Homo sapiens: one gene and its partners. The protein of the gene in region 7 purifies or fractionates together with the protein of the main gene of each other region. This does not show direct contact. Each region holds a gene or a part of one and is shown on either strand. Other genes may lie near its edges.

Region 1 (3,500 bases), on a different chromosome or scaffold from region 7:
TCTTTCTGGCTGGTTCAGGGGGTCAGTTATCATGTCCCTGAAAGGGACATTCTGTGGATCAGTTTGATTACTATGTACATTTAAAAGGTAGCAGCAAGCCAGGTATGGTGGCTCACGCCTATAATCCCAGCACTTTGCGAGGCCAAGGAGGGCGGATCACCTAAGGTCACGAGTTTGAGACCAGCCTGGCCAACATGGTGAAACCCTGTCTTTACTAAAAATACAAAAATTAGCCAGGCATGGTGGCGGGCGCCTGTTATCCCAGCTACTTGGGAGGCTAAGGCAGGGAGAATTGCTTAAACCGGGGAGGCGGGGGTTGCAATGAGCTAAGATCGTGCCACTGCATTCCAGCCTGGTTGACAGAGTGAGACTCCGTCTCAAAAAAAAGAAAAGGTAGCATTAAGCCTGGTATGTTTTATTTTCCTGTTTGTTAGAAACCTAGATTCATTTTTAATCTTCACCAGCATCACATTTGAAAATAGTGAATTGGGCAGCTTGGCATTTGTGCTGAATTCCTTATAAGGCGTTGTGTAGGAGGGAAGATTACATGATTACACCACCAGACCCCTGGGTCTTTGATATTAGGAGAGCTTGGCATGTAAGGAGTTGGGGAGTTGGGCTTGTCTCATTTAAATCTGAGGCAGGCCTCTCTCTGGGCAGTCTTGAGGAGAGACCTCAGCCTCCCCAAGCTATGGCTGCCTGTCTGTACAGTGATTATGGTGCTCTTTCCTTCCTTGCAGGGTGTGCTAAGGGCTGAAAATAGCAAGTGGGCCATGCACAGTGGCTCACACCTGTAATGCCAGCACTTTGGGAGGCTAAGGCGGGAGGATTGCTGGAGCCCAGGAGTTTAAGACCAGCCTGGGCAACATAGTGAGACCCCCGTCTATACAAAAAAAAAATTAGCCAGGCATAGTGCCATGTGCCTGTAGTCCCAGCTACTGGGGAGTCTGAGGTGGGAGAATCCCTTGAACCCAGGAGGTCAAGACTGCTGTGAACCATCATTGTGCTACTGCACTCCAGCCTGATGATAGAGCAAGACCTCATCTCAAAAAAAAAAAAAAAAAGAAAATAACAAATGTAGAGTACCTAACACATGTAGTAAATGCACAGCAAACAGGAGCTGTGGCATCAGCCACTATGATAAATTAGAGGCCATGCACATGATGAAAACAACATCTGTGAATTGAGTGGGAAAAAGCAGAGGTAACACAACAAACATACATTCAGTGCCTGTTACATACAGGACATCATACTTATCACTGTGAGGGTCACACAGGTGAAGGCCCTTTCCTGTCTTCCAGGAGCTCCTCACTTATTAAGAGGTGGCAGATAGATTGGCTGGGTGTGGTGGCTCACTCTTAACAATCCCAGCACTTTGGGAGGCTGAGACAAGAGGACAGAAGTTTGAGACCAGCCTGGGCAACATAGCAAGACCCTGTCTCAAAAAAAAAAAAATTAGCTGGGTGTGGTGGTGCACACCTGTAATCCCAGCTACTTGGGAGGCTGAAGTGCAGGAAGATCAATTGAGCACAGGAGTTCAAGGCACAGTGAGCTATGATGGTACCACTGCACTCTAGCCTGAGTGACAGAGCAAGGCTCTGATTAAAAATTACACACAGAAGTGGCAGATAGATTCCTGGTAGCCTATAATGTCAGAACATAAGTGCTTTGTGGGCTGGAACTTTGGCTTGCTTACCACTCTAAACCCCAGCTGTTACAGATCTGATGGATGAATGAATGATTGTAACAACTGCTGATTAATAAGCCACTCAGGGAGCGTGGGGGTGGGAAAGAGTAATTCTTACAAAGGGGAGGAAGAGGAGAGTGGAAGTTGAGTTGGGCCTTCAAGGTAAATTCGACCTTCACATGGTGAGGTGGAAGGTAAGCATTTTAGAAAGATTAAGGACAGAGAAGAGCAGGGAGGGGAGGCAGCCTGCGGTAGAAGGGTGGGGCACAAGAGGAATGATGGGGCAGCTTCTGTCACCTCAGTTTTATGCCTTTACTTAGTCACATACCTTAGATTTACGTTGCAGAAAGAGGCAATTGATAGGTTTGTTTCTCAGTGGGCAAGAGAGGCTGCTCCAGGAAGGCTGCGGCTCATCTGGGATGACAGCTCTGTCTGTTTCAGTGCCATGGGGACAGTCGTGCTGGATGGGCAGATCTACGTCTGTGGGGGCTACGATGGCAACTCTTCCCTCAGCTCCGTGGAGACCTACTCACCTGAGACGGACAAGTAAGGACTCCAGCTCCCTTGGGGCAACTGGAGCTTATAAACAGAGAGTATAAAAATCAGAACTGTAGTTTTTTTAATTTAAGCTTCTCAAGGGTAGAGAATGTCTTACCTTTTTGCCCGTATAGTACTTTGTATATACTAGATATTTAATAACCCTTGGTTAAGTGAAAGAATGAGTAAATAAAATTTTAAAACAAATAGTCTACATAGTTGCTTGGAAATACTTATTTAATGGTCTGTACCTCTTAGCTAAATCAGCCCATTTTAATGGAAATACAGGCAAGAGGGAATAAGAAGTAGATGAACAGCATGTTCCAAAGTGGGTAGGATATGATTTGGAAAAAAAAAAATGTTTTTAAGTTCTGTGGTCAGATAGGCTTGGGAAATGTTGATGTCTGAACTGCCAGAGTCCTTGTCTTTCCATAAGATATATTAACATTTTAAAGACTCTAAGAAACCCTGCAGTAAATAACTCTGTTTAACCTCGGGTTTTATATACACAACAGTCACCATCTTGTGGGACTCATTTGTGGAACACTCTTTGAAAAACATTGACAAGGTTAGCCCGAGTTTTTCATTTCAGTATTTGAATCCTCTCATCTTATATAATAAAATATAAACAAATTAGTTGAATGGACTTATTAGGATGCCTTTAAGCCAGTATTCTGTTCACTTGACCAATCTACTGTGGATCAGACAGCAAGCTGGGTGTCTGAGATCCTTTAAAGCATCCAATGTGGTTGGGCCATGGGTTGCATCATGATCATCCTACCCTGGAGGCCTGTGTCAGAAGCTCTTGGGCACAGAGCAGAGAGAACCTTCATCTTCCCCAGGGTTGCAGGAAGGGACAGGGTAGCAGGGATGTCTTCCAAGGTGAGACCTGTCATGGATAGCCAATGGGAGGTGTTTGCTCATCATAGGGAGACAACAAGGAGTGAGGCTGCAATAAGAAAGTGTTCACTGTAATCGAGAACAGCAATGATCCTCTCATGGGCTAGAGCACAGCGTGTGGATGGGAGACGGAGCAGGGTGGGTGGCATGTGGTGTGGGGTGAAGCTGAAGGGTGGTTGAGGACCAAGAGGTGAAGAACCACATGAAGGGCTGGGCACAGTGGCTCACGCCTGTAATCCTAACACTTTGGGAGGCCAAGGCAGGAAGGTAACTTGAGCCTAGGAGTTTGAGACCAGCCTAGGCAACATAAGAGAGACCCTGTCTCTTTTAAAAAAAAAAAAAAAAAAAAAGGAGAGAGAGAAAAAAACATTAGCCA
Region 2 (3,500 bases), on a different chromosome or scaffold from region 7:
AAATAATTGTTTTAAATGTAAAATAAATAATAGGTAATTCCTAAAGCAACAGGGTTAGTGTTTCAGGAAGAAGTACTTTAGACTTCCACTGGGAAAAAATTAATTTTTCTTATTGGTTAGACTTTTGCAGCTCCAGAGATCGGTTGTCTGCCAAGAATCAGACCTTCCTGATGAGCTGCTTTATGGACGGGCAGGTTATCTGTATGCCTTACTGTACCTGAACACAGAGATAGGTCCAGGCACCGTGTGTGAGTCAGCTATTAAAGAGGTACTATGGGGTATGGGTAACTATGGGCGTCTCTACCATTCAAACCTATTTGCTAGCATTGAGTTGTATTAACAGCTGGACTTTACTTCTAGGTAGCATTACTTTTTTAAAGCAACTCATCAAAAGTAAGAAATAGTCCCTGCTTTTTTCTAGGAACATTAACAAAAAAAATCTGTACTCTCTTTCATCTTGTATTAATTTATCAGTTTTTACTGGAGCTAAACAGCAGCAGCTTCAGAAAGTTAGAATGTTTATTTATCTTTCGTGAGATGTCTCAGCTGGTAAGCATTTCAGGCTGGTATGAGTGGGGACCAGCTTCTTCTGTCTCATTCTGCCTTATCCTAGGGGCATACCCTTATTTGCAGGACCAAGGCTAGTTTAGCCCCTCAGCCTATGAAGGGAAAAGAGGAGGTGGAGGCAACGCAGCTTCCTTGTTAGGGACTCAGTCTCCAAGTTGCCCTCTTTACTTCTGCTCCCATCCCAGTGCCAGAACTTCATCAAGTGTCTGTGTTCAGCTGTCTCTAACTAGGGAGCCAGATGCCCAGCTAAAACTTGGAATACTTTCCCAAAAAGGATGAGAGGAGATAGACGTGAGGAAACAGTCATCCCAGACATGATATTCTGTTGATCTAACTGAAATCCTTCATGCCACAGCAGACCTCATATCATTAGCCTTTTATAAATAAAGCCAGTTCCTCCAGCCTTTCCTGATAGGTGTATGTGCTGCTCTTTTGGGAAAAATACTGCAGCTACGAAGCAACTAAGAAATCCAAAACAGTTTTATAAGAAGTTTTTCTAGATTTTTCGTTGACTTTTTATGCAAAGAATTTTTTATTTCTTAGACAGTATCTTTTCCTACTCTGACATTGGCTCCTGATTTCTTTTTGCCTGCATTTATTAATTTATAAAATAAATATAACTATATTAGCTGCTAACTGCTTAAAGACTTTTAGATTAAGGCTTCTGCCTCTCTCTCTATATATGTCATATATATATGACATACTGTTAATTAGACTACAACAGGGTACATATACAGTTTTAGATTTATGCTGTCTTGTTATCTCTGTAGGTAGTCAATGCTATTATTGAATCGGGTAAGACTTTGTCAAGGGAAGAAAGAAAAACGGAGCGCTGCCCGCTGTTGTACCAGTGGCACCGGAAGCAGTACGTTGGAGCAGCCCATGGCATGGCTGGAATTTACTATATGTTAATGCAGGTAGGTAAGAATACTCTTACACACTACAGTATATTTGATCAAACATGAAATGGGAAATGAATCCTGCATATAAACAAAGCAGTCTGGATTGAAATACCCTACTTTGAATCGCTGATGCGTAACTCTGCCACATAAACCACAGGCAGTGGATTTCTAAGAGTCCAGTGAGTTCCTGAGTACATTTGGTATGGAGTCTTTTTTTTTTTTTTTTTTTTTTTTTTCCAATTTTCTTTTTTTTTTTTTTTTGATCATTCTTGGGTGTTTCTCGCAGAGGGGGATTTGGCAGGGTCACAGGACAGTAGTGGAGGGAAGGTCAGCAGATAAGTGAACAAAGGTCTCTGGTTTTCCTAGGCAGAGGACCCTGCGGCCCTCTGCAGTGTTTGTGTCCCTGGGTACTTGAGATTAGGGAGTGGTGATGACTCTTAACGAGCATGCTGCCTTCAAGCATCTTGTTTAACAAAGCACATCTTGCACCACCCTTAATCCATTTAACCCTGAGTGGACACAGCACATGTTTCAGAGAGCACAGGGTTGGGGGTAAGGTCACAGATCAACAGGATCCCAAGGCAGAAGAATTTTTCTTAGTACAGAACAAAATGAAAAGTCTCCCATGTCTACCTCTTTCTACACAGACATGGCAACCATCCGATTTCTCAATCTTTTCCCCACCTTTCCCCCCTTTCTATTCCACAAAACCGCCATTGTCATCATGGCCCGTTCTCAATGAGCTGTTGAGTACACCTCCCAGACGGGGTGGTGGCCGGGCAGAGGGGCTCCTCACTTCCCAGTAGGGGCGGCCGGGCAGAGGCGCCCCTCACCTCCCGGACGGGGCGGCTGGCCGGGCAGAGGGGCTCCTCACTTCCCAGTAGGGGCGGCCAGGCAGAGGCGCCCCTCACCTCCCGGACGGGGCGGCTGGCCGGGCGGGGGGCTGACCCCCCCGCCTCCCTCCCGGACGGGGCGGCTGGCCGGGCGGGGGGCTGACCTCCCCGCCTCCCTCCCCGGACGGGGCGGCTGGCCGGGCAGAGGGGCTCCTTACTTCCCAGTAGGGGCGGCCAGGCAGAGGCGCCCCTCACCTCCCGGACGGGGCGGCTGGCCGGGCGGGGGGCTGACCCCACCACCTCCCTCCCGGACGGGGCGGCTGGCCGGGCAGAGGGGCTCCTCTCCTCCCAGTAGGGGCGGCCGGGCAGAGGCGCCCCCCACCTCCCGGATGGGGCGGCTTGCCGGGCGGGGGGCTGACCCCCCCACATCCTTCCCGGACGGGGCGGCTGGCCAGGCGGGGGATGACCCCCCCACCTCCCTCCCGGATGGGGCGGCTGGCTGGGCGGGGGGCTAACCCCCCCACCTCCCTTCCGGACGGGGCGGCTGGCCGGGCGGGGGGCTGACCCCCACCTCCCTCCCAGACGGGGTGGCTGCCGGGCGGAGACGCTCCTCACTTCTCAGACGGGGCGGTTGCCGGGCGGAGGGTCTCCTCACTTCTCAGACGGGGCGGCCGGGCAGAGACGCTCCTCACATCCCAGACGGGGCGGCAGGGCAGAGGCGCTCCCCACATCTCAGACGATGGGCGGCCTGGCAGAGACGCTCCTCACTTCCTAGATGGGATGGCGGCTGGGCAGAGATGCTCCTCACTTTCCAGACTGGGCAGCCAGGCAGAGAGGCTCCTCACATCCCAGACGATGGGCGGCCAGGCAGAGACGCTCCTCACTTCCCAGACGGGGTGGCGGCCGGGCAGAGGCTGCAATCTCGGCACTTTGGGGGGCCAAGGCAGGCAGCTGGGAGGTGGAGGTTGTAGCGAGCCGAGATCACGCCACTGCACTCCAGCCTGGGCACCATTGAACACTGAGTGAGTGAACGCGACTCCGTCTGCCATCCCGGCACCTCGGGAGGCCGAGGCTGGCGGATCACTCGCGGTTAGGAGCTGGAGACCAGCCTGGCCAACACAGCGAAACCCCGTCTCCACCAAAAAAATACGAAAACCAGTCAGGCATGGCGGCGCGCGCCTGCAATCGCAGGCACTCG
Region 3 (3,500 bases), on a different chromosome or scaffold from region 7:
AAAATTCCCTTGAGATTATATGGCATTTAGGATTAGAAGAAAGAACAGAAATAGCTAGAGAAACCTGATCCTATGGACAGGTTTCTGGATAGAACTAGCATACCTTATGGGCAGCCCTATCCCAGATAAATAAAAACACTGGTAGAAGGTTTTTATTAACTGTTCAGTTGGTTTAGGTTTTACTAAATGATTTTTAATTTAAGCATCTTTATTTGAAAAGCCCATAATACCCCTAAGAAGGTTTGGCTGAGTCATTTACATGTCATTCTGAATGGATTCAGTTGCTTAACCCTGCTGAAATTTCTTGTGAGTTTACAATTTTAAGGGACTTGGTTGCCTGAGGAAAGGTCAGTAGAAGGCATGAGAGCTATACACTGAAAAGATAGGAGAGGAAATGTCTGATATGTAAATGTTAATTTCTTCACAACTTAAAATTATTTGCAGTTCTTCCAAGATTGATCATATACTATTGATTAACCACATATATGTTATTTATTAACTTTTATGTTGATACCACTCATGTTTTTATCCTTTGACTTATTTTTACAGATAAAGTGGAGAATTTTCATGAAGAACATGAAAAGAATAGTCACCATATTCACAAAAATGCTGATGACAGTACTAAGAAACCCAATGCAGAAACTACAGTGGCTTCTGAAATCAAGGAAACAAATGATACTTGGAACTCCCAGTTTGGGAAAAGGCCAGAATCACCATCAGAAATATCTCCAATCAAGGGATCTGTTAGAACTGGTTTGTTTGAATGGGATAATGATTTTGAAGATATCAGATCAGAAGACTGTATTTTAAGTTTGGATAGTGATCCCCTTTTGGAGATGAAGGATGACGATTTTAAAAATCGATTGGAAAATCTGAATGAAGCCATTGAGGAAGATATTGTACAAAGTGTTCTTAGGCCAACCAACTGTAGGACGTACTGTAGGGCCAATAAAACGAAATCCTCCCAAGGAGCATCAAATTTTGATAAGCTGATGGACGGCACCAGTCAGGCCTTAGCCAAAGCAAACAGTGAATCGAGTAAAGATGGCCTGAATCAGGCAAAGAAAGGGGGTGTAAGTTGTGGGACCAGTTTTAGAGGGACAGTTGGACGGACTAGAGATTACACTGTTTTACATCCATCTTGCTTGTCAGTTTGTAATGTTACCATACAGGATACTATGGAACGCAGCATGGATGAGTTCACTGCATCCACTCCTGCAGATTTGGGAGAAGCTGGTCGTCTCAGAAAAAAGGCAGATATTGCAACTTCTAAGACTACTACTAGATTTCGACCTAGTAATACTAAATCCAAAAAGGATGTTAAACTTGAATTTTTTGGTTTTGAAGATCATGAGACAGGAGGTGATGAAGGAGGTTCTGGAAGTTCTAATTACAAAATTAAGTATTTTGGCTTTGATGATCTCAGTGAAAGCGAAGATGATGAAGATGATGACTGTCAAGTAGAAAGAAAGACAAGCAAAAAAAGAACTAAAACAGCTCCATCACCCTCCTTGCAGCCTCCCCCAGAAAGCAATGATAATTCCCAGGACAGTCAGTCTGGTACTAACAATGCAGGTAAGAATTTAAAAAATATGTATAATAAGTACAATAGTTCCCCCTTACCTGCAGTTTCACTTTCTGTGGTTTCAATTACCCAAGGTCAACCATATTCTGAAAAGAGGTGAGTACAGTATAATAAGATAAAGATCCCATTCACATAACATTTATTATAGCGTATTGTTAAAATCATTGTTCTATTCTTAGTCATTGCTAATCTCTTACTGTGCTTGATTTATAAATTAAACTTTATCATAGGTATGTATACGAAAAAACATAGTATATACAGGTTTTGGTGTACTATTCCTGGTTTCAGGCATCCACTAGGAACTGGCATGTATTCCCTGTTGATGGCTGGGGGGGCTACTTTAAATGTGTTTTTCAGGCTTGAATCAACAGCTGCATAGTTTCTTCCTAGATACTCAAGTTTAGCTTGTTATATTTATTAAAAGTACCTGTTAGAACCGTAAATCACCTTATCTAAAGGTACAGCATTTCAAGTGTTAATGATCAGGTCCCAAGTTGTAAGGAACCAATTTGTAGATTGGAGAGTCTTCATATTTGAGTTTTAATTTAACCTTTAGCACTTGAGAATTTTAAAGCATATATGTGTATGGGGCAGGGACACCAAACATCGTGATGTTTCCACTTGACAAATGCAAATGCAGTGAAAACATAGATTAGATTTTGGGCCTTTGGAACTGTACTGATAACAGGTGGTTATAATGAGGGAAATACCAGAAGATTAGAATTTAAAAACTCTTTGTGGTTGGCTAAAAACTAATAAACATTCAAAACACTCTCAAACCCTCCTAAGTTGGTTTAATAAAATTGAAAAGTGCCAGGTAAGTATGCATTCCCTCTTAACTGTGGAAATTTAATTTGTGCCGAGATTGTAGACTCAGTAGTGACTAAGGGTCCTCAAGGAGTTCAGTCTCCACTGTGAGAGACAAACAAAAGAAATAGGTTAGCTCTGCCATAATTAAGTCATTACCTGACAAGGGCTTTGTGAAGTGGATTGACTATCTAGTGAGGAAGAATTTGTGAAAGCTTCTAGGATACATGGTTTCTTAACCAAATATAGTTTTTCTGGATTGGTTTACATATTAAATAAAGCTTTTTTCCTGGTAGGGCCACAGAAGTGTCATTATGGTAAATTAGAATTACAGTAGTATTTTGAAATACAAATTCTCTTGTAGAATATAAGTCATTCTTGAGATTACCTACCATTTTGCTTTATTTGGCCTGAAAATAGTTTTGCTTAATTTATTCTTCAAAACTAGACATACACAGGAGTACCCCTAGGGGCTCACCCCTGCCTCCCCCGAAAAAAAAGAAAAAAGAAATACATCCAGTGTTGTCTTTGAATCTTTTCTGGAGACTGGAAATTTGCAGCAGCCTTACTATAGTCACTTAAGATCTGGCTAGGCAGAACAGCTAGGCATTTGTTTCCTCAGTAGAATGATAAATACTGCTATACAATACCAGCGCCCTTGTCCTGCTGTAGTTTACTTATAAGCTTTTATTCTAACCTGGATAGCAAGTTATCCCCTGCAATTGAGAATCTGTGGCTGAAATTTACATCTTGTGTAATACAACTTTTAAAGATGTAAAATGTGAAATTAGACTCCCTTTGAGAAACTTGAAGTAGATGCTAAATAACATTTGAAAATTAGAGGCCATTTGGTTGATCTACCCAAAGTTGAAATTTGAGTCTTCATACCATAAGTGAAACAGCAAAAAATTTTAAGCATTGGGATAGAGAAGAGTCTTTCTATGTTTCCTATTTTGTTTCGCTTAGAAAAAGATACATATTTTTAACCAGTTGGGAAATAAACTGACTCTTTGGTTAGTTGTGTTTGAAGACCGACAAATCATTAAACTTTGTTATATTAGGTCATTTTAAATCTCTTGCCAAGGATAACTGTCCTCCTTTTCTGGTG
Region 4 (2,361 bases), about 120 Mb from region 7:
ACCACAATAATAATAGCTGCTTATGCTTATGGAGCATTGCCATGTGCTAGATAGGCACCATCCTCAGCCCTTGGCAGGTCTGAGCTCCTTTATTTCTTCCAATCAACACTATGAGGCAGGTTCTGTAACCCCCCTTAGGGTTAGGCCACTCGGGAAACTGAAGCACAGAGAGTTTAAGTAACTTCCTGGAGGTCCGACGCGTAACATGTGGAGGTGCTGGGATTCAAAACCAGGCAATGTGGGTCCCGGGCACTCTTGACCAGTGCCTGTACTTCTTCCAAGGAATAGAGCAAGGGAGGTCATACCGAATATCACAGTGTCACCTAGGAAGCCCAAGGGAGGTATTCCCGTTAATCTGCAGCCAAGGCCGGGCGCGGTAGCTCATGCCTGTAATCCCAGCACTTTGGGAGGCCAAGGCGGATGGATCATGAGGTCAGGAGTTCAAGACCAGCCTGGCCGAGATGGTGAAACCCCGTTTCTACTAAAAATACAAAAATTAGCCGGGCGTGGTGGCGGACGCCTGTAATCCCAGCTACTCGGGAGGCTGAGGCAGAGAACTGCTTGAACCTGGGAGGCAGAGGTTGCAGTGAGCTGTGATCATGCCACTGCACTCCAGCCTGGGTGACAGAACGAGACTCCATCTCAAAAAAAAAAAAAAAAAAAAATCTGTAGCCAAGACCGTTCCTTTTTTGACAGGAAGGTAACTTAGAAGAAAAAATAATCTCTGAAAAAAGTCCTCCCAAGAAGGAAGCAATATTTATTGTGGGTTCTACATTAGTGTTCACAAACTTGGCTCTGCCTCAGAATTAGGTGGAAAGTATTTTTGTGTGTGTGTGTGTGTGTGAGACAGAGTTTCACTCTGTCGCTCCAGCTGGAGTGCAGTGGCATGATCTTGGCTCACTGCAACCTCTACCTCCCGGGTTCAAGCGATTCTCCTGCCTCAGCCTCCTGAGTAGCTAGGATTACAGGTGTCAGCCCCCATGCCTGGCTAGTTTTTGTATTTTTAGTAGAAAGGCGGTTTCACCATGTTGGCCAGCTGGTCTCAAATTCCTGACCTCAGGTGATCCACCTACCTTGGCCTCCCAAAGTGCTGGGATTATAGGCATGAGCCACTGCACCCGGCCGGTGGAAAGCATTTTTAACAAAAAATTTTTAGGCCAGGCACAGTGGTGGCTCATGCCTGTAATCCCAGCACTTTGGGAGACTGAGATGGGAGGATCGCTTGAGACCAGCCTGGGAAACATAGTGAGACCCTTTCTCTACAAAAAGTTAAAAAATTATCTGAGCATGGTGGTGTGCACCTGTAGTCCCAGTTAGGAGGCTGAGGTGAGTGGATTGCTTGAGTCCAGGAGTTTGAGTCTGCAGTGAGCTATGATCATGCCACTGCACTCCAGTCTGGGTGACAGCAAGACCCTGTCTCAAGCAATTTTTTTATATTAGTTTATGTAATGTTTATTGAAATCACAGTGTCAACAAGCACCTCTGGCATGAAATAGTCACAGGAGCGAACACAACTATCTCTTGGAAGCATGCAGTTTGACTCATGGAATCAAGCATGTGCTGTACTATAATAACTTGTCTCTCCATGCCGTAATGCCATCCTGACTGAGATTTACCTGGCCCTTCAATATAGCATTTTGCATATCTACCTATGACATGATGGGAGGTGGCTAATGGGGAGGGATGCGCCCTGGGGAGTTTTGTGAATGTGTTAAGTGGAGTTAAGAGACCTACTGCATGCTATTGTATAGATTATACATTATATATTTAACCATTTGTTGCTGTACAGTGAAGCTTTTTCTAGTATTTCTTTTTTGCTATTATAAACAATGTTGCAGTAAATATCCTAAATACTCTAAAACATTTGACCCTTAAATTATTTTCTTTGGAAAAATATTAAATGAGATATTTAGGTCAAATAGTAGGCACACGTTGAAGGCTTTGAATATGTATTTCATGTAACCCTTCAGAACAGTTTCACACAATCACTTACACATCAGCAATTTCCCTGAACTTTGCCAATTTTTATCTTTTCTTTTTAAAATATCTTTGCCATTTTGATAGGTGAAGAATGACCTTCTGCTGGATGTGGTGGCTCACACCTGTAATCCCAGCACTTTGGGAGGCCAAGGCAGATTGCTTGAGGTCAGGAGTTCAAGACCAGCCTGGGCAACACGGTGAAAACCTGTTTCTACAAAAATACAAAAATTAGCAAGGTGTTGTAGTCTCACCAGTGCGCCAAAATGTAGCAGTCTTTGGTTGTCTGAGATAGTATCCGGAGTTCTTTGTGTCACAGAGCACGAACACAAGGGTGAGGTTGGAGCAAAAGTTTAGTAAGCAAAACAAGAAAGCTCTCGGCTG
Region 5 (3,500 bases), on a different chromosome or scaffold from region 7:
ATTGAAATCAAGGCATCAATAGGGCCATACTCCCTTTGAAGGACTCTAGGGGAAACTCCTTCCTTGCCTCTTCCAGCTTCTAGTGTCCCTGGTGTTCCTTGGCTTGTGGTAGCATCACTTCATAACTTCTCTGCTTCCATCTTCACATGGCCTTCTCTCTGTTTCTGTGTCTCAAATCTCTCTCTCCTTTCTGTTAAAAGGATGCCAGTCATTGGATTAGGACCCGTCCTAAATCCAGGATGATCCTGAGATCCTTAAGAGCCTCAACTTAATTACATTTGCAAGGACACTTTTTCCAAATAAGGTTACATTCACACGTGCCGGGTTTTTGGATTCGGACATATCTTTTTGGGGAACAATATTCAAATGCACTGCACCCTTTTACATTCCTACCAACTGTTAGTAGGAATGTAAAATGAGAGTTCTACTTGTTTCATATCTTTTCATCGCTTGTCAGTCTTTTACATTTTAACCATTCTAGTAGGTGTGCAGTGATATTTGATTTTAATTTGCATTTCAGTGATGACTAATGAGGTTGCATATCTCTCTTTTTGTAAATCTTTATTGAGTGAGGTATAATTTACATACCATAAAATTCACCTGTTTTCAGTGTAGGACTCAATGGTTGGTAGCATATTTGCAGAGTCGTGTAACTGTCACCACCGTCTTATTTTAGAACAGTTCCATTCCAGAAGAAACTTTGTATTCATTTGCAGTTATTTCTCAATTCTACTTCCTCCCTAGGGAACCACGAATCTACTCTGTTCTTTAGATTTGCCTTTTCTGGACATTTTTATATAGATGGACTCATACAATATGTGGTCTTCTTTCACCCAGGATGTTTTTGAGGTTCATCCATGTTGTAGCATATATTGGTACTTTGTTCCTTTTTATTACACAGTGGATAGAATTCCAGTGTCAGGCCGAGCATGGTGGCTCATGCCTGTAATCCCAGCACTTTGGGAGGCCAAGGCAGGTGGATCACCTGAGGTCAGGATAACTTAGATCAAGACCAGCCTGGCCAACATGGTGAAACCCTGTCTCTACTAAAAATACTAAAATTAGCCAGGAGTGGTGGCACATGCCTGTAATTCTAGCTACTCGGGAGGCTGAGGCATGAGAATCACCTAACCTGGAAGGCAGAGGTTGCAGAGAGCCCAGATTGTGCCACTGCATTCCAGCCTGGGTGACAGAGTGAGACTGTGTCTCAAAAAAAAAAAAAGAATTCCAGTGTCAGGATATACCATATTTTGTTTATCTGTTCACCAGTTGATGGACATTTGATTTGTTTCTACATTTTGACTATTATGGAAAATGCTACTGTGAACATTTGCACCCTAGTTTTTGTGTGGACGTGTTTTCATTCCTCTTTGGTAGATACTTAGGAGTGGAATTACAGGACTTATGGTAAATCTATGTTTAACATTTTAAGAAACTGACAAACTGTTTACTTGTGTGGCTACACCATTTTACATTTCCCATCAGCCATTTTGAGGGTTACAATTTTGTCACATCCTTGTCAACACTTGTTGTTGTCTGTCTTTTCTATTGTAGCCGTTATAGTGGGTGTGAAGTAGTATCTCATTGTGGTTTGATTTGCATTTCTCTGATGGGTAATAATGTTATGCATCTTCTCATGTGCTTATTGGACATGTGTATATCTTCTTTTGTGAAGTGTCTGTTCAAAATCTTTGCCCATTTTTTTGTTGGATTGTTTGTGTTCCTATTATTAAGTTTTATGAGTTCTTTATATTTTCTAGATATAAATCCTTTGTTTACTATGTGTGTTGCAAACATTATCTTCCATTCATCTAGGTTACTTAATAGTTTTTAAGAAAGGTCCACTTTATCAATGTTTATTTTTATGATTCATGCTTTTTGTGTCATATCTATGCAGTCTTTATCCCAAAGTCACAAAGATTTCTTTTTTGCTTTTTAAATTAAACTTTGTCATCCCCATAATGGGCACTTAGTTTTTATTTTTCTTTTCTCTTTGAAATAACTTAGATCATATTTTCTCTCTTGTGATTGCTTATGCTATGGACTTTTATGCTGTTTCCAAGTCTGGAGGGTGAATAAGAAGGTTGGACCACATAGCTTTCTACGATTAACATTTATTTAATTTGTGTTAAGCACATGAGAATACTATACGGTATTCATGCATTTTTAAAATGAACTTTTCTTCTAAGGCATATAATAGAACAGTCCAGATAAGTATTTGATGGTTTGAGTTAGAACCATGGCGTCTACTATTTCCTTACTGTAGGGATAGGGGATTCATACCCCGTGCCTCAGTTTCTCCAGTCATTAATGAGGTTAAGAATAGCTGCTTCTGTGGGTTGGTGTGAGGACCCAGTGTGATGAGGTCTAGCTACTATTCCAGGGGTAGAGTAGCATGCCCTTGATTGAGTTTGGTGGCCTGAGGGGTCCTCTGCTGGGGTGGGGCTGGCCCTATGCATTTTTTCCCAGATGTTATAATTTATTATTTTGAAATGATTTAAAACTTATTGAAGAGCAAGAGTAGAACCTAGAGCTCTCATAGACCTGTTTGTCCATATTCACAGGTTAACATCTTGCTGTGTTCACTTTATTGCTCTCTTTCTCGCCATATATATCCACATGAACAATTTTTTTAATGAACCATTGCAGAGTAAGTCGGAGACATCAGTCCTCTTTACCCCTAAATAGTTCAGCATATATTTCCTAAGAACATGGACATTCTCTTGCATACAAATATAAACACAATCAATTGTTAATTTCAGAAAAAGTTAACATTGATATAATGCTATTATTTCATCCAAAGTCCATATTCAAATTTTGCTAATTGTCCTAATAATGAATTTTATAGCATTTTTTTCCTGGTCCAGGTTCCATCTGGATTGCATATTACCTTTCATTGTCAGGTCCCTTTGGTCTCTTCTCCTTTAATCTGGTGTCCTTTCATGTCCTTTAAATTGGTTCCTCATCCTTTTTCTTTCAAGACATTGACATTTGTGATGTGTGCAAGCTATCTTTTATTTATTTATTTATTTATTTATTTAATTTTTTTGTAGAATGGCCCTGTATTCTTATTTGTCTTATGTTTCCTTATGATTAGATTCAGATTTTGCCTTTTTTTTTTTTTTTTTGAGACCAAGTCTCGCTCTGTTGCCCAGGCTGGAGTGCAGTGGCGCGATCTCAGCTCACTGCAACCTCCACCTCCCGAGTTCAAGCGATTCTTCTGCCTCAGCCTCCTGAGTAGCTCAGACTACAGACACGTGCCACCACACCCAGCTAATTTTTGTATTTTTAGTAGAGATGGGTTTCACCATGTTGGCCAGCCTGATCTCGAACTCCTGACCTCGTGATTCACCTGCCTCGGCCTCCCAAAGCGTTGGGATTACAGGCGTGAGCCACCGTGCGCAGCCCAGATTTTGCATTTTTGCATGTATATTTTTGAGGAAAGATGGGGCCTCTAGAGGTCACATATTTATAATCCACATATGCCTCCTGGCTGTAGG
Region 6 (3,500 bases), on a different chromosome or scaffold from region 7:
CAATCTATCTATCTAATCTATCTTTTGTATTGGCAAGGTCTCACTATGGTGCTCAGCCTAGTCTTGAATTCCTGGGTTCAAACGATTCTCTGACCTTGGCCTCCCAAAGTGCTGGATTACAGACATGAGCCACCATGCCCAACCCATTATTTCATTTTAACCCAAACTTACGGGAGGGGGGCCTGAATCATTTTTCCCCCTTTAAAAACAGGATAAAATAACTGAGCTCAGAAAGGAAGTGATTTTTCCAAGTCAGACAGCTAGGACTGCAAAGCTACGACGGAAACCCAGGTCTGACCAAAGCCCTTGCTGATAATATACTCATCTTTCTTCCTGATAAGGGGTGGGTGACTCAGAAATTGGTTCATGGACCACCACGTAACCTCCAACGGGAGTAAAGCACACAGCTTCTACCTATAACTGAAAAAAGAGGCTCTCATCTGACCCTGGATGTGAGAAAGGAAGCAGCGTGTCATCCTGGGAGGTGCTGTCAGCCATTTTGCCACCATCAGGGAAGCTGGCCAGAGAACAAAGCTAACATGCAGGAGGCAATGGGAACAAACTACGGGGAAATAGAGCTGGAACCTTGATCAGGCTGCACCTGAAGACTGATTTTCCACTAGGCTTTTCCATATACAGTTGTTCCTTATTATTCCTTTTTGTTGCAGGGAATTGGTTCCAGGATTGCCACCCACTTACCACCCCACCAATACCAAGTCCTTGGATGCTCAAGTCCCTTACATAAAATGTAGTAGCACAGCTGATCCTTGAACACACGCATGAACTGCACAGGTCCACTCATATGCAGATTATCTCCTGCCTCTGCTGCCCTACACAGCAAGACAGCCCCTCCCTCTATTTTTTCCTCAGCATGAAGACCTTTATTATGATCCACTTCTACTGAACACACAGGAAATATAGGTTCCCTTCCTTATGATTTTCTTAACATTTTATTTTTCTCTAGCTTACCTAAAAATACAGTATATAACAGATATACAAAACATGTGTTAACTGACTTTATGTTATTGGTAAGGCTTCTAGTCAACAGCAGGCTATCTGTAGCTTTTGGGGAGTCAGAGTTATACCCAGATTTCAACTGCATGTGTAGGGGACAGCCCTAATCCCTGCATTGTTCAAGAGTCACTTGTATTTGCATATAACCTATGCACATCCTCCCATATGCTTTAAATCATCTCGATTATCTGATACAGTGTCAGTGCTCTGTACATGGTTGTTACACTGCATGTTCACATCTGTATTACTTTCTATTGTTTATGTTATCTTGAATGTTTTCAATCTGGTTGGCTGATCATGGATGTGGAAACGACAGATATGGAGGGCTGACTGTAAATGTGTTTCCTTTATTGTTTCGGTCAGTTTGAAATGTGTTTTCTGTTACTTGCATTTGAAAACATCTGACAAGGCTGATACAGAAGGTTTGAAGGTATACAGCTAGGAAGGACCTTGGCGTTACCTAAGCCTCTGATTACACAGATAAGAAAATGGAAACCCAAAGTCATCAAGTGACATGTCATGAAGTCACACAGAGTTAATACTTGAGCTAAGATATAGAATCCTGGGCTCTGAGGGGACCTGGCTGTCACCTAATCTAAACTTACCCTGCTCCCACCCACAAGCAGACAGCCTAAGACAGAGCTCGTTGCTCAAAGAGCAGTTAGCAGGTGGTGGTGGCTGGGGGAAGAGTAGCTAACTGGGCAGCAGAGGTTGGTCCCTGTGTTGCTACTCAGCTATTCAACCAGGCTGCTGGGCATCCCTCCGCAAACTTCACCTGCTCTTCAGGTAGCCTGGCTTCAAGCTGGGCTCAGTGGTGGCACCAACCCTCCTTGGGCATGGACAATCCTGTGCTAGCAACCTCCCTACTCCTAAAGGATGCATGACTCCAGAGCAGAGGCCGAGGCCGAGGCCATGCAAGGTGGAGCGACCTGCTAACCAGAGCTGGGGGAGGCATGTGAGCTCAGAGCATTGGTCCTGGCCTGTCCCAGCCCTCAACCCTGTCGCTGATGAGAGATTTAACAATGGTCCAGAAATGCAACTTAATCAGAAGCTGCTGCAGCAACAACAGCTAACAATGATTAAAAACCACTGGGCTTGCCAGTAAGGGCTGTGGGCTCGGGGTTAGTAAGAATTGGCACCCCACAGAACTTTCTTCCCAACCTGATTCATACCTACTACTTAACTTTGAACAAAGCTTCACAGATTCATTCCATGGGGGAATCCTGCTTTAAAAGAGAGATGCCTGTAGAATTTGGAGTGTATAAAAACCCAAAGAATTCACATTAGGAGAATTTTGGCTGTCACAGACAGCTTCACTAAAAGGTTTCTTTCCAAACAGCTTCTCCTACCACATTAAAGACCTCACAGGCTATTGTTACCTAAGAAGCAGGGAGGGTAATGACAGGATCCCTTAGGCACTTTAAGATAAGAGACTAAATTAATTTTAATGGTAATGGAAATACATAATTAGAATGCTCCAAATCTGAGTAATCTAGACTTTCAAAACCTCTGACCAACAGGCATCCAAGTCAGAAGAAGTCTGGCTCCAGACAGGCATCCCCCAAACAGACCAGCGGAAAGATCAAACACCTCACAGCTGCCCACCCCACACCTTTCAAAGCCTTGCACCCATCTTGGTCCAGCTATCCCAAGCTTGGCCAAGCCCCCATGTGCAGGGCTCTGAGGTCAGGAGGACAACCCCAATTCTCCTCAGCCTCCCAAGAGGGGGCCTTGGTGGCCATCCTGGACTGGCTACAAGAGCCTGAGACACGCCCTGCAAGCAGAAAGTCACCTGTGAGACTGAGGGACACTATCACAGGATTGGAAAGTGGGATCTTTTGGCAGGCAGGAGATGGAGAGCCAGGGTGTGGTAACGGGTGATGGGGTGCTGCCTCAGCTTGGGAGCTCACTGCATTCTGGGCAGTTAAGACTGAGGCAGGACCCAGAGGACAAGAGGAACCTCTGGTTTCCTCCCTAGTTGTTCAGCAATGCTGGACAGGCAGAAAAGGGGGCAGGAACCATGACCTAGAGCCACAGCCTAGAACAGTGAGGGTCAAACAGTGCCACTGCAGCCTCAGAGTGGCCCTGAGGACAGCTGGGCACAGACAAGGGTGGTGCGGCAGCAGGCATGCACACACAGGATGGGACGGGGCACCGGCACATGGGCTTGTCTGTCTGGCCCCATCTCTGCCCCACCACTTCCACCACACCTCCCATGGGGCCAGACGGCGTGTGGCGGTGGTTTCACAGGCTCAGCTCCAGCACTCAGGCAGTGTTCTGAGCTGAAGAGTTCACGCAGGGGTGAGCACATGGGGCCCCTGTGGGCAGTGCAGTCTGGAACGCCCACTTGCCTCCCGCTTATCTGCTCTGCCTATGTGCAGAGGATGTTCTTCCCCAACTTCCTTCATTGCCTGTTTTTGCCCAGAGGGAAAAACCATAGAGGGGTGATGGGAGGAAGGTTCCAGAAGTTTCAGAATGTTTTTCTT
Region 7 (4,257 bases):
CTTTTGGCTGTTCTAGGCCCATTACATTTCCATATGAATATTATAATTATCCTGTCAATTTCTATTAAGAAACCTTTTTAGAATTTGTATTAGGTTTGAGTTGAATCTACAGATGAATTTGGAAATAACTGACATCTTCAATATTGAATCTTCTAACCGAAAATCAAAGTATACATCTCGATTTTTCCTTATGTTATTATCTTTGCAATTTTTTGTAGTTTTAACTGTGCAAGTCATTTACATTTTTGTTCAGATTTATCCCTAAGCCTTAATATTTTTTGAGATATTTTAAATTGCACTGTGCTTAATTTCAAATTCCGGTTGTTGAAATTAACTACCAGTCGACCCTAGGACTACCATTGGCTGAAACACTGACTGTTCTAATATATAAACTTCTAATATATAACTTCTAACATATAAACATACAATTGATTTGTGTGTTGATCTTCTATCCTGCAATCTTGCTAATCTCAATTATTGTCAAAGCCTTTTTTTTTTTTTTTTTTTAGATCGACTTTTCTACACAGGCTCTCATGTGGTCTTTGACAAAGGATACTTTTACTTCTCCCCTTCCACACTAAATGCCTTTTGTTTTTCTTTTGCACTGGACACAATCTCCATTACAAAATGTAACAATGCCCACACTGGTGTACATGTTGGTGTTAGATAGTATTCTGCATGTAAACACTCAGAACAACTTCCAGCACATGTGTACCCACTCCTCCCCCAACCCTACACACTGGTAAAAACCATGTTGTGGGAGACTACATTTGCTATGAACATACACCCCTGATTTGAAACAAGACTAGGATACCCAGTAAGGATGTTTATTCACTGAAGTTCTGGCAGACTGAAGGCCATGATTTCAGACTAGAAATAGGAAACTTAAGAGGACTACATGGACATTGGAAAAAAGAACATGGATTGAAATTTGCCTGGCAGAAACCTGAAAGTTAATGGTCTTCAAGGTGCATATGAAGGAACTGCAGGAGGGAAGCGGGATAATTCACATCTCCACCAATAATTAAATGTAGCCACACTAGCTTGGAGGGATTTGAGGTGAGACATCTAAAATACTAGGTCATGGTGAGGGTTGGAAGACAAAAGAATGAATCACTTAATAGGAATGGCTGTGGGGAAGGGCTTGAAGGAATCATCCTCTCACTTCCATGTGAACCATGAACATTAAACATGGAGAAATGAGGAGCGGAGGCAGATCAGTTTGGGATGCATCTTCAGGGGATGCTGAAACAACAACAGCATTTGGTTTCCTCTACACCCCTTTCACCCCTCCCCCACAAACCCAGGGAGTTGTCAGAGGTGGTTCTTTGTGATGCCAAAGCCACCCTAGGACTACCATTGGCTGGGACACTGCCTGTATGATCAAACAAAGCTCAAGGGTGTGGCTTCGTCTTGCTCCCAGGAGGGTATATATACAGGGTGGGCAAAAGCTCTGGGACAGCCCACTGGAAAGCTTCAATACAGCTGTGGAAATCTGCACCCTAGAAGATCCTAGTACAGAAATTCTACAACCAACCATAATCATGGAAGAGCCAACTTCCAGCACCAACGAGAATAAAATGAAGAGCCCCTGTGAATCTAACAAAAGAAAAGTTGACAAGGTCAGATTGTTAGGTTTTGAAGGGAAGGTGAGGGTGAAAGAAAGACACACAGATAGGGCGCGGGTCAAACAGCAACACGGGTATACTGCAGACACCTGCAGAAATGTGGGGCCAGCTTCATGCCAGAGCCCACCGCTACATACAGGCCAGCGTACTTATAGGTATGGGTGGGAGAGGTTTGGGCAGTATGGCTGGCTGCTCGGCGGAATATTGATAAGATGTTGTTATGATCAGGCAGTTTGGCCCTTTTTCTGGTGGGATGTCATCATGGTGTTGCTTGGACCTTTTTCCCCAACAAGATATGATAGGGATGTTTTTTTAGATGGGCCTTTATCCACCTCATGGTCAGGCAGTTAGGCGGGATTTTTCTCACGGCCAGAACTCCCGTGGAATGTTTCACTTTGACCAAGGTCTACAAAATAGAAGGGAGCTTACAAGAGAGTGCAGTTTAGACTGATATTCTTGCCTTCTACTTTATCATAAAAGGAAGAGGGACGTGGTTGATTATCTGGCTGCTTGCTGCTGAATAGGGGAGCTGTATTCAGGGTTTGGGTTTTGAAGCAGTGGGTGTTGGACTTCAGAGTTGTTTTCCTGGAGGCACTGGTACCGGACTTGGCAGCGGAGAAGGATGGTATCAATGTGTTGCTGGGTGGCTGCCTGGACAGGGGAGTTTAGCTTTAGGGAGATAAAGAGGGATATGAAGGTGAGTATACATGGGCCAATTGTAGTATTTGGAGGAGAAAGATTAGGGGACCTAAGAAAGCGGCCCCCTGCTATCCCAGTGCTGAGTGCAGCAGAGATGTTTAGTTCTGCTAACACTAGAATGAAATGTAGAGCCTGCTTAGTGTGTGTGGAGGAAGATGAGACAGAAGCTACTAAAGGAAACCGGATGGTCTGCTTGTGAGGCAAAATGTTAACGTTTAGACTGAAACACAAGGGTGCATGTTCCTGACCAATTGGCCAGTAGGCAGAGATAAGAGTTTGTGCCACAAAGGAAGAAGACACTGGGGGTGGACAGACAAAAGTTGTAGCTTATGGTGGCAAGTCATGAGAAGATGGGGGTTGAATTCTGCACAAACCCTTTGTTTTAACTTTTATGCTTTTCCAAGTTGAATAGCTGCCAGCAAGGGTAGGCCCTGTGAGGGCATGACAGAAAATGCTGGTGGGGGAGGAGTTGAAGGCTGTTTGGTTTTGGAGAGAGAGAGATAAATGGGTTTTTGTAACTAATAGTCATTGCGGTCCTGATATGGCAGAAGGATATAGGTTGCAGTTGAGGGAATTGTTTGTGCATTTTTTCCAGGGAGCGCTGTTGAGTTGGATACATGAAGAGCGGCTCTGGCAGAGAGGGGAGGGGTTGGTAAGAGGTGTTTTATGGGATCCAGCTTGTATCGTGTTCAGTTAAGAGGCTGGCTATGAGGCGAAGGAGGGTGACAGCCCTGTGTGTGACAGTGTGGGTGGATCTGATAGACTGGGGAGAAAGGTGTTTAGCTGAGCAAGATTATAAACAGGTTTTGAGAATGAATTGGCCAAGTAGGTGAGATGCAGGTTTATTTTGGACTGGGTTTACGTGGCCAGTTTGAAAGGAAGGGCTGTGAACTGCTGGATTTGTGTGGACAAACAAATTTAACAGTTGGAAGAAAGACGGGAGGGAGTGTGACTGATTTAAGAGGCAATGTGTTAGGCTGATGAAGGGGGCTCAACTGTTAGAGGTTGGGGGTGGGGACTTAGAATATTCCACAGACAAAAAGGGCAAAAGGAGAAAAAGGAGATTTGAGTAGGAGTGAAATTTTGGAAGGCGCCCTGCAGTCATACCTCCTGCATTACTGTGGGAAATTGGCATGGGCTATCCAGGGACATGGGGAAGGGACACCAGGAAAGATCTGAAATAAAGTAGGAGATAAAAGATTGGAAATTGGAGATGGAGACTGTTATGCACTAGGGCATTCTGGATTGGCAACTTCTGGAATTCTTGTTAAGTGCAGTGAGGTTGGTCCTGTGAGGGAGAGAGAGTAATTTGGGGGTGAGGAAATTTCTAGATGTGGATCTGGTGCTCTTTTTAGTTTGGAATGGTGTATTCAGTGTGGGAAGGATGTTAGCTTTGCCACTGTGTGAGTAGTTAGGATAACCTGCTGAGGACCCGTCCACTTAGGTTGGAGAGGGGAGGAGGAGGAGTCTGCGATTCAGACCCAGTCCCCTGGTTGTAGGGACAGGGAGGAGTGTTTTGAGGATGGACTTTTGGGCTGGGGATAATAGGGCTTAGGCTGAGGGGATTTGAGGAAATGGCTCATAAATGCATGAGGACCAGTAAGAGAAGTGAAGCCTGGGCCGTTTTAACCTCTAGGGAGTTTTTGTTTGTTTGTTTGTTTTTTAATTACATGAAGATTAGGGGAGGTAAGGAATATGGAAGGCCCACTTAATGTTTAGAGCCTTTGCCAGCTGTTGGTTAGCCTGTGAAACAAATGTTGGCCCATTGTCTGACTGAATCCAAGAGGGGAGTTTAAACCTGTGGATAATATGAGTGAAGAGAATAGAAGTGATGGGGTGTGCCTTTTCGGTGGTGGTAGGAAAAGCTTTTATCCATCCAGAGAATGTATCTACTATTAGCAGAAGGTATAGGAATCATTTGTTGGGAGGC

The links.
Region 1: the proteins of SPANXN4 (region 7) and KLHL18 purify together in Homo sapiens (affinity purification with mass spectrometry; one large-scale study listed by BioGRID and IntAct). This does not show direct contact.
Region 2: the proteins of SPANXN4 (region 7) and LANCL2 purify together in Homo sapiens (affinity purification with mass spectrometry; one large-scale study listed by BioGRID and IntAct). This does not show direct contact.
Region 3: the proteins of SPANXN4 (region 7) and WAPL purify together in Homo sapiens (affinity purification with mass spectrometry; one large-scale study listed by BioGRID and IntAct). This does not show direct contact.
Region 4: the proteins of SPANXN4 (region 7) and ACOT9 purify together in Homo sapiens (affinity purification with mass spectrometry; one large-scale study listed by BioGRID and IntAct). This does not show direct contact.
Region 5: the proteins of SPANXN4 (region 7) and FTO purify together in Homo sapiens (affinity purification with mass spectrometry; one large-scale study listed by BioGRID and IntAct). This does not show direct contact.
Region 6: the proteins of SPANXN4 (region 7) and MTMR14 purify together in Homo sapiens (affinity purification with mass spectrometry; one large-scale study listed by BioGRID and IntAct). This does not show direct contact.

What each region holds. Positions count from the first base shown.
Region 1 is NC_000003.12:47,338,444-47,341,943, forward strand, and holds part of KLHL18 (kelch-like protein 18), read left to right. Parts: intron 1-2,113; coding exon of another isoform or gene 2,114-2,128; coding exon 2,129-2,233; intron 2,234-3,500. UniProt on the Homo sapiens protein: Substrate-specific adapter of a BCR (BTB-CUL3-RBX1) E3 ubiquitin-protein ligase complex required for mitotic progression and cytokinesis.
Region 2 is NC_000007.14:55,399,837-55,403,336, forward strand, and holds part of LANCL2 (lanC-like protein 2), read left to right. Parts: intron 1-120; coding exon 121-268; intron 269-1,337; coding exon 1,338-1,484; intron 1,485-3,500. UniProt on the Homo sapiens protein: Necessary for abscisic acid (ABA) binding on the cell membrane and activation of the ABA signaling pathway in granulocytes.
Region 3 is NC_000010.11:86,497,793-86,501,292, reverse strand, and holds part of WAPL (wings apart-like protein homolog), read left to right. Parts: intron 1-549; coding exon 550-1,575; intron 1,576-3,500. UniProt on the Homo sapiens protein: Regulator of sister chromatid cohesion in mitosis which negatively regulates cohesin association with chromatin. Involved in both sister chromatid cohesion during interphase and sister-chromatid resolution during early stages of mitosis.
Region 4 is NC_000023.11:23,700,555-23,702,915, reverse strand, and holds the end of ACOT9 (acyl-coenzyme A thioesterase 9, mitochondrial isoform a precursor), read left to right. Parts: 3' UTR 1-1,861; downstream 1,862-2,361. UniProt on the Homo sapiens protein: Mitochondrial acyl-CoA thioesterase. Catalyzes the hydrolysis of acyl-CoAs into free fatty acids and coenzyme A (CoA), regulating their respective intracellular levels. Regulates both mitochondrial lipid and amino acid metabolism.
Region 5 is NC_000016.10:53,707,156-53,710,655, forward strand, and holds part of FTO (alpha-ketoglutarate-dependent dioxygenase FTO), read left to right. Parts: intron 1-3,500.
Region 6 is NC_000003.12:9,691,005-9,694,504, reverse strand, and holds part of MTMR14 (phosphatidylinositol-3,5-bisphosphate 3-phosphatase MTMR14), read right to left. Parts: intron 1,002-3,500; exon of another isoform or gene 1-1,001. UniProt on the Homo sapiens protein: Lipid phosphatase that specifically dephosphorylates the D-3 position of phosphatidylinositol 3-phosphate and phosphatidylinositol 3,5-bisphosphate, generating phosphatidylinositol and phosphatidylinositol 5-phosphate.
Region 7 is NC_000023.11:143,024,471-143,028,727, forward strand, and holds the start of SPANXN4 (sperm protein associated with the nucleus on the X chromosome N4), read left to right. Parts: upstream 1-1,457; 5' UTR 1,458-1,544; coding exon 1,545-1,622; intron 1,623-4,257.